Linked DNA regions of Homo sapiens. The protein of the gene in region 1 interacts with the protein of each later gene in a pairwise test. Each region holds a gene or a part of one and is shown in the gene's direction. Other genes may lie near its edges. The genes, in order: TPP1 and FBXO42.

Evidence for each region.
Region 2: the proteins of TPP1 (region 1) and FBXO42 interact in binary tests that used the Homo sapiens proteins (3 or more experiments, as listed by UniProt).

What each region holds. Positions count from the first base shown.
Region 1 is NC_000011.10:6,616,623-6,620,999, reverse strand, and holds the start of TPP1 (tripeptidyl-peptidase 1 preproprotein), read left to right. Parts: upstream 1-1,577; 5' UTR 1,578-1,599; coding exon 1,600-1,616; intron 1,617-1,732; coding exon 1,733-1,804; intron 1,805-2,084; coding exon 2,085-2,224; intron 2,225-3,223; coding exon 3,224-3,374; intron 3,375-3,571; coding exon 3,572-3,699; intron 3,700-3,846; coding exon 3,847-4,025; intron 4,026-4,140; coding exon 4,141-4,339; intron 4,340-4,377. UniProt on the Homo sapiens protein: Lysosomal serine protease with tripeptidyl-peptidase I activity. May act as a non-specific lysosomal peptidase which generates tripeptides from the breakdown products produced by lysosomal proteinases. Requires substrates with an unsubstituted N-terminus.
Region 2 is NC_000001.11:16,349,677-16,354,006, reverse strand, and holds the start of FBXO42 (F-box only protein 42), read left to right. Parts: upstream 1-1,526; 5' UTR 1,527-1,752; intron 1,753-4,330. UniProt on the Homo sapiens protein: Substrate-recognition component of some SCF (SKP1-CUL1-F-box protein)-type E3 ubiquitin ligase complex. Specifically recognizes p53/TP53, promoting its ubiquitination and degradation.

The sequences.
Region 1 (4,377 bases):
CACATTGTAAAAAGAGCTCAATTTGTTGAGCCTTTGTCATGTCAGGCTCTCTGCAGGTGGCTGCCTTGCTTAATCTCAGTGTAAATTTTCACAGTCATACAAAGGGATTTGGGAACCACTGGTGTTGCCTGTTCTTTGGGGAGCCAGGCTGTGAGGGAAAGGCAATTGGCCAGTGTTTGAGAAGTTCATGAGATTGAGGAAATTAGAAAAAAAAAAAAAAGTTGTGGTCAAAGGGAAATGTTTCTGAGCATGATGCTAGTAAATACAGCTCTAGGATCCACGCTTAGTGGGAAACTGGAGGGATCAATGGACAGAGAGAAGTCAGATTAATAGGAGTGAGGAAAAACAATGGCTTGAAAAAACAGAAGGTTATAGTCTAAGAAAGCATTCTATAATTATAATTTCAAAGGTAGAGCAGTTTTGAGAGATAGCAAGCCCAATGCAGCCATGGGACTGGTTTGCTTAAGTGAAGTGAAGGTAATGCTCACTGGGTTTAATGAGATGAAGAAATGGAAGGTTAGGGTGTTGAATGGGTCTTTTACCTAGATATTTTGATCATCTAGGTCAAATGATCGCAGGAGTTGGGATGGACAGAAAGGTGAAGTGCCATAATCTTCAGTGTGGGAATATAATCTATAGGTTAATGGAAGCCAGTGGCCTGTAGGACAACAGCAGGAGTAGAGGGATCTATCTAAAAAGTATTGAGGTCAGAACAAGGGATTTCACATGAGTATTGGATTAATGGTTTTGGAAGTTAAAATGACACTGCTGACACCATCTTCCATATGGATTTTTGGGGGGAAAAAAAGGAAGACTGGAAGGGAATTGAATCCTCAGGGTTTTAACTCTCATTGAAAATCCTCTTGTAATGACCCCAGTTGGAAGTAGTAAACTCAGACCTCCTTGTGGGCTTTGAGTTACCATTAGAAGAAGCAAAGGTCCGTTTCCATTTTATCCACCTGAGCCCACTAAACAAGATGCAAGATTCCTCCATGGCCCTTAGAACAAAGTTGATTTCCTTGAAAACCTTGGGAACCCATAATAAACAGGACCCCAGCTGATTGTAGATCTCCTGGGAAGCTACTTAAAACTGGAAACTGATTTGAATAAAAGGATCCTGGTCTTGCAAAAGCTTTACTCTGTTCATAAATGTAGTCGTAAAATGAAGACAAAATTGATAATATGGGGACATAAAGGATAAAAGAGGAAAAAAATTTTTTCACTGCAATCTTTCGAGGCAGATCACTTTTATATAAGTCTCCATATTGTAAATGCAGAAACCTAGGCTCTGAGAGGTTATTTTGCTGATGTCATACAGCTAGGAAGAACCCCAGTCTGTGGGTCTCTACAGCCCACTCACTTGTGGTGATTCCCAGGGGACCAGGCTCAGGACGCAGGTGGGGAGCCCTGGGCTTACTCAGTGCTTGACTGGCCAGAGGGGAGAATCCGGGTGGCGGCCCCACCCTTGCCTAGCATTTGGGACCACCCATGCAAGGGAGGAGCCAGTACCGTCACTAGTTACTAGGCAGAGGGGTAGTGGTGGTGGAATATAGAGCTCATGTGATCCGTCACATGACAGCAGATCCGCGGAAGGGCAGAATGGGACTCCAAGCCTGGTGAGAAATTGAGAGGGCTCGGGAGAAAGGGATCACGTTGGAGGGAGCACACATTGGGAGGGTGGGAACACAAGGACAACGTAGCTCCCACTGAAACCCACCTGCTGCCCCTACAGCCTCCTAGGGCTCTTTGCCCTCATCCTCTCTGGCAAATGCAGTTACAGCCCGGAGCCCGACCAGCGGAGGACGTGAGTTGACTTAGCACAGACTGCCCCCTTCCCCATACCCTGTTCTGCCTCCCACTGTCCTGGTCCTAGCTTCTCTCACCCCCGTGCCAGCTCCTAGTACGCACTCCATAGCTTCATCTCTATGTTCCTAGCCTCAGTCCCCTATCATTCACCTCATGTGATCTGTATCTGCTCCTAGGATCCTCCCCAAGGTCTCAGCTCCTAATCTGGAACCTTCCATGACCAATATTTTCCATCTCCACCCTAACCAAAGCCATGTCCCTGACCCCTGACCCTACAGGCTGCCCCCAGGCTGGGTGTCCCTGGGCCGTGCGGACCCTGAGGAAGAGCTGAGTCTCACCTTTGCCCTGAGACAGCAGAATGTGGAAAGACTCTCGGAGCTGGTGCAGGCTGTGTCGGATCCCAGCTCTCCTCAATACGGTGCCTTTTGGGACTGAGGACAGGATGTGGGATGCGGTGGAGGGACACAGGGCTGGGTTGGGCATGGGATGGCGATCATGTCAGAGCCTGCCAAGACACTTGTGTTCCTCAGGCTAGAAACCTAAAAGGGGATGTGGTTCAGTATACAGGCTTTATGATCAAATACGAACTCAAATTCTGACTCTGCTACTTACTAGCTACCAGGCATCTAGTACAACTTACGTTCCTTCCCCTACCCTCAAATCCATTCTAATTTCCTCTTTTGTTCACATACTAAGGCTGCCAGTTCTAACTCCCAAAGAGCCTTTGGATTAATCTCCTTCTTGCCGTCTTTTGTTACGACCAACTCCGTTATTTATTCCCACTCCTGGACTACTGCCCAGCTCCCCAGCTGATCTGCAGTCTCCTCCCTCCACCCCACCCCTCACTGTACTCCCCCACTCTGCTTCAAAACAGTCTCTCCAACAGTCAAAATGGATTGGTTCCTTCTCCTGGTTAAAGCCCTTCACAGCAGGGGGAGTGTGTGCTTGTGAACTGCAGAGGCTGGGGACGGGGCAGTGTGACACTAGTGTGCATGGCAGGAAACAGTGACTCACCATCGTGTTAAGCTTAAAATCAACAAGTATGCAAATTTGAGCTAAACTGAATAACTGGTACCGAAAGATTTGAAAACATTTACCGGACATAAGCTTAAAATTAAAATGGAAAATTTATATGTATTAACCTCATTCATTTTCATGATCATGGCAATACATGCTGTGGTGCGACATTTGCAACTTACTGGCCTTTAGGGTAAATCCATATTATTGGCCATGGCATTTCAAGTCTCTCCAGCCTTTTCTTCCTCTGCTTCCCAAGTACACCCTACACCTGCACACATAGCCCTCCTTTACCCTGTTCCAGGCTTTGGGAAGTCCTGATGTCTCATAGTTGAGGTCCAAAAGGGGGAGTTTGGGAAAGCAATGAATGAGGGCAAGTGCCTCTTCTGAATCCCTGCAGGAAAATACCTGACCCTAGAGAATGTGGCTGATCTGGTGAGGCCATCCCCACTGACCCTCCACACGGTGCAAAAATGGCTCTTGGCAGCCGGAGCCCAGAAGTGCCATTCTGTGATCACACAGGACTTTCTGACTTGCTGGCTGAGCATCCGGTGAGAGGAAATGATTGCTCCATGGAGGGCACCAGTCATCCCATCAGTGAGATGGATGGGAGGGAGTTGAGAGCTTGCTGGGGCTTGTGGGTGGGAGCTAATGCATGGGGAGACAGTGACTGACTGCCCAGGGATGCTCAGAGGTAGCTTCTTCTGTTCCGTTTTGAGCTTTCTGACCTCTGTTCTCTGACCTCCAGACAAGCAGAGCTGCTGCTCCCTGGGGCTGAGTTTCATCACTATGTGGGAGGACCTACGGAAACCCATGTTGTAAGGTCCCCACATCCCTACCAGCTTCCACAGGCCTTGGCCCCCCATGTGGACTTTGGTAACACCTATGGGGTGAATGGGGGTTGGGGCACACAGATCCAGGGGCTGAGGAAGTTTAGATGCCATTGGGGACTGGGGGTGGGGTGAGTTGTAAGGTGGGCATTACAGTCTATAAGATCTCCTCAAGCCTGACTTCTCCCTACAGTGGGGGGACTGCACCGTTTTCCCCCAACATCATCCCTGAGGCAACGTCCTGAGCCGCAGGTGACAGGGACTGTAGGCCTGCATCTGGGGGTAACCCCCTCTGTGATCCGTAAGCGATACAACTTGACCTCACAAGACGTGGGCTCTGGCACCAGCAATAACAGCCAAGCCTGTGCCCAGGTGAGCCAAGCAAAGAGCCCCAGGGTCCTCATAGCCTCCCCACAGTGTCCTCAATTCCTTACCACCCTGGGACTCACCCTCGGACCCACGATCTCTGCTCTGACTCCCTCCATAGTTCCTGGAGCAGTATTTCCATGACTCAGACCTGGCTCAGTTCATGCGCCTCTTCGGTGGCAACTTTGCACATCAGGCATCAGTAGCCCGTGTGGTTGGACAACAGGGCCGGGGCCGGGCCGGGATTGAGGCCAGTCTAGATGTGCAGTACCTGATGAGTGCTGGTGCCAACATCTCCACCTGGGTCTACAGTAGCCCTGGTACTACCAAGAGGACTGGACAGTGGGGAAGGGGGTGG
Region 2 (4,330 bases), on another chromosome or scaffold:
CAAAAAAATAAACAAATAAATAAAAATAAGTAAATAAATAAATAAAAACTACATTGGTTCGGTGCAGAAAGACCGGAAACTTGAAGTGGGGGCTTCCACATTATAGGCAGATTTAAACATTTTCTGATTGGCAATGAGTTGAAATAGTTATTATCAATAGGCCTGGTGCGGTGGCACACGCCTGTAATCCAAGCATTTTGGGAGGCCGAGGCAAGTGGATTACTTGAGCTCAGGAGTTTGAGATGAGAGTGGACAACATGGCGAAACCCTGTGTCTACAAAAAAAATGGAAAAATTAGCCAGGCATGGTGGTGCCCGCCTGTAGTCCCAGTTACTCAGGAGGCTAAGGTAGGAGGATAGCTTGAGCCTGAAAGACAGAGGTTGCAGCGAACCAAGAACTCATCACTGGACTCCAGCCTGGGCAACAGAGTTAGACCCTGTCTCAAAAAAAAAAAAGTTATTATCAATAGAAATGAATGTCTGGGTTATGATAAGGGATTGTGGACACCAAAGTTTTATCACGCACGTGAAGCCTCCAAGTGGCAGGTGGGCTCCAGAGAGAACAGATTGTAAATGTTTCTTACCAGTCTTAAGGTCTGTTGTGTTGATGTCAATGCTGAAGGATGTAATGAGGCATGTCTCATGTCCTGCTTCCCGTCATGGCCTGAACCAGTCTCTCAGGTTGGTTACATTTTAGACTGCCCTGGCCTAGGAGGAAGTCCGTTCAGATGGTTTGGTGTTGGGGGGGGGGTGGGGGCTTAGTTTTTTGTTTTGTTTTGTTTTGTTTTTTTGGCTTACAGAGTTTAGACTGAAGCCTTTGACTCTGTATCTGGCATTTCCTTAGACCACATGCTGTAGGGCTGGGCTCATGAAGGTTCTCACCTACACACCAGGTTGCTCCCTTGAGAAGGGGGACTTTGCTGGATCCTATAACCTAGCTAGTAGGAAGTAAAGGAGCTTGGGAACCAGACAAGCCTGAGTTTAAATCCTCTTTCCCGCGCCGCCCCACCTCCACTGATAGGTGTGTGACTCCGGGCAAATAAGTGATCGTTTTCTGTGCCTCAGTTTCCTCATCTGAAAAGTGGAGCTAGTAAGAACTCACAGTGGTTGCTACGAGGCTACGGTTAAGGGAAGACTTCTCCTGCACACCTCAAGCACAGTTTCCCTCCCCTTGGCGATATCCAAGAGCACTCACATCCGCCACAGCCCTCTCTGCTCATCGGGCCCTCGGGGTAGAAGTGAGTTAATTCCTGGCTAAATGTTAGTCTCAAACCACCGGGAAAACCACCCAGTTGCCCCAGACAGTGCAGCGGAGGGTGGGTGCGGCTATCAGGTCGACGCTAGAGACGCGGCGAAGGCGGGTGCGGAGGCCTAGCTCCCCCGAGCGCATTCCACCCTCCACAGAACCTCGGCCTGTGACCACGGCCTTTCTCAACACTGCGCCGCCCCCTGGCCGCCCCTCGCCATCCCGCCGCGCTGACGTGAGTGCGCGCGCGTCCGCCGCGCCCGCCCCGGCGCATGCGCGCTCTGCGCTGTCTTCTCCCGGCCTGAGCAGCAGCAGCTGCGGCGGCGGCGGCGTTTGAGTGGAGGAAGATGGCGGCTCCGGGCGGCTCGGGGTCCCGCCAGCTGTGAGGAGCCCCGAGCACGGCTGTCGCGGCCTGAGGCAGAGCGCCTCTGCTCTGGCCCTGTCCCTGGCTCCCTCATTACCGTCGCCAGCGGAGCGAACCCGAGAGCGTGGAGCGGGCTGGGCCAGGTGAGGCCTCTCCTCCTCCCCGGGCCGCAGAGGGGAGCCGGCGCCTTCTGCCCTTTATGCCCGGGACTGGCAAGGGGCAGCGGGCGCCCGGGGTCTGACGCAGGCCCCGTATCCCACGCGGGGGTCGGTCCTGGTTGGGCAGGGTGACTTGCTATCGCCGTCCTCGAGTGAGGCGAGGAGGAGGACAGCTCCTTTCCAGCCAGCCCTTGGGTTGGGAGCGAACCCACCCCCTCTCCTCAGCAGGGTGGTTCTCGTCCCCTCACCCGGGCAGTGAAGGGGTGTGTGGCCCGGGCAAGGATGGCTTTAGGGTGTCAGGTAATCTTTCATCGCTCCTCCGAACATTTCACTCCTTTGCGAGAGAGGAGTCGGGGGTCGGGTGCCCATCAAAATTGGGGCTGCGGCTGGGGGCTAGCATCTCTGAACCTGCAGCTGCAAAGGGATAATTTTGGAATTGGTTTACGTTAAATAAAACACAAAAGGCCTTTCCTATCCCCTAGCTTGTTGAGTGTTCCCTTAGAGAAATGGGAACTGCGGATCTCCTTGCTTGAGACAGCAATCCATGCTGTGACTGTGGAAGGCTTCTCTTGGCGAGAATTGTGTGTGCAAAGGGAACGGTGGAGGGTGGGAACGAATTTGTAAGCGAAGAGAAAACGATTGTGAGATCTTGATGGTCGCTGCAGAGTAACTTCAGCGCTGAGTTCGTTTGAAACCTTCGGTTTGTTAAGATTCAGAATAACCAATTGCTTTGTCTGTTAAATCTCCCGATTTCTGTTAGGAAAATAAAAGCCTCATTTCTTAATTGCCAGAGTCTGGATTTTTCTGTGGTGGGATTCTGATCGATCTAGATGAAGATTCTGACACATTACCAGTTTTACTTGCTGGCAGTTGCTGGCCCCGACGTTGAAACTATGTTGTTCCTTTTTGAGAACAACTTTTATTGCTGTTTAAATGCTAATTGGGAGACTTCGATTGTGTTTCTGTCATGTAGGGAAGTCGGTTTGAAGCCTTGTGGTCTCTTTCTTGAGGAATGATGGCTTCACTGAACTTGTGCTATGCAGAATTGTTGAGGCGATTGCTTTTGCTTGGACACACCAAAATATCTTTTGTAACAAATTGGCTTTACTTCTGCTTAAGAATGATGACATCATGGATTTAAAGAGGCAAGGAAAATTTGGGGGAAGTACCATCATTTAGAATTGAATATTTAGAATTAAGTCTGTATATCTTATGGCCATTAGTGATGCTGTGTTAAATTGCTAACTTTGAGTGTATTCACGTGTGTAATCTGATTGGGTGTCTTTTCTATTGTATGTTGTCATTTTATACCCAGTAACTGTTTGCTTTTGACAAGCCAGTATAAATAGATGATTCAATCTACATTGATCCATAGGCATGTTGCGTATCTTAAAAAGCTTTTCATTGTTAAAATGACAACTGTTTAGGTTATTATTTGACCATTTTCTTTCTTTCTTTCTTTCTTTCTTTCTTTCTTTCTTTTTTTTTTTTTTTTTGCAGTTTCTCACTCTGTCATCCAGGCTGGAGTGCAGTAGCACAGTCTCGGCTCTCTGCAATCTCCATCCCCTGGGTTTAAGCGATTCTCCTGCCTCAGCTTCCTGAGTAGCTGGGATTACAGGTGTGCGCCACCACGCCCGCTAATTTTTTTTTTTTTTTTTTTTTTTTTGTAATTTTAGTAGAGACGGGGTTTCACCGATGTTGCCCAGGCTGATCTCAAACTCCTGGTCTCAAGCGATACCCTGCCCCACCCCAGGCTTGAGCCACCGTGCCCAGCCTCCTTTTCTATTTTTAAATCAAAGACTTTTCCATAGAAATTTGTCGATTTTCTTAGTGTCTTTGCTAAAGATGTAAATCTGAACCAGCAGCTTCTCTGTGGTAGAAAATTGGAGAGCTACTTTGCATATCAATTTGCTAATAAAGAGTCATGAAATTAATGCAGTAAAACATCCTGGTGGCTCATCATTATGCTTCTTGGCATAATATGTTGCACTGTTATGCTAAATCATCATCAGGTATTGATGCAACTTCATGACATCCATGACATCATTTGCTCTCCAGATTTTGACCTTTGCAATTCCTTACCTTAGTTACAAAAAGAACAGGATCAGAAAAAAAATAGCTTAGGATGCTTCTTCTTGTCTGATTTCTAGAGGGGTCTTTAATAACAGCTTTATGTGGTTTAAACCCTGAGTAAGATTCAGAGCAGGGTGAGTCCTACCTATTATGGAGAGCAAGCAAAGAAAATGCTAACAAAACGTCTGAGTTTTATGAGAACACTGAGGTCCCAGGGAGAAGCTATCTCAAAGATGAACAAATACGTAATTATCTTTGTGATTTCAGAATTGTTTTAGTCAATGAATTAACTCTTTTTGTTTGTTTTTTGAGACATAGTTTTGCTCTTGTTTCCCAGGCTGGAGTGCAATGATCTCGGCTCACTGCAACCTCCACCTCTCCGGTTCAGGCGATTCTCCTGCCTCAGCTTCCTGAGTAACTGGGATTGCAGGTGCCTGCCATCATGCCCAGCTAATTTTTTGTATTTTTAGTAGAGACAAGGTTTCACTAT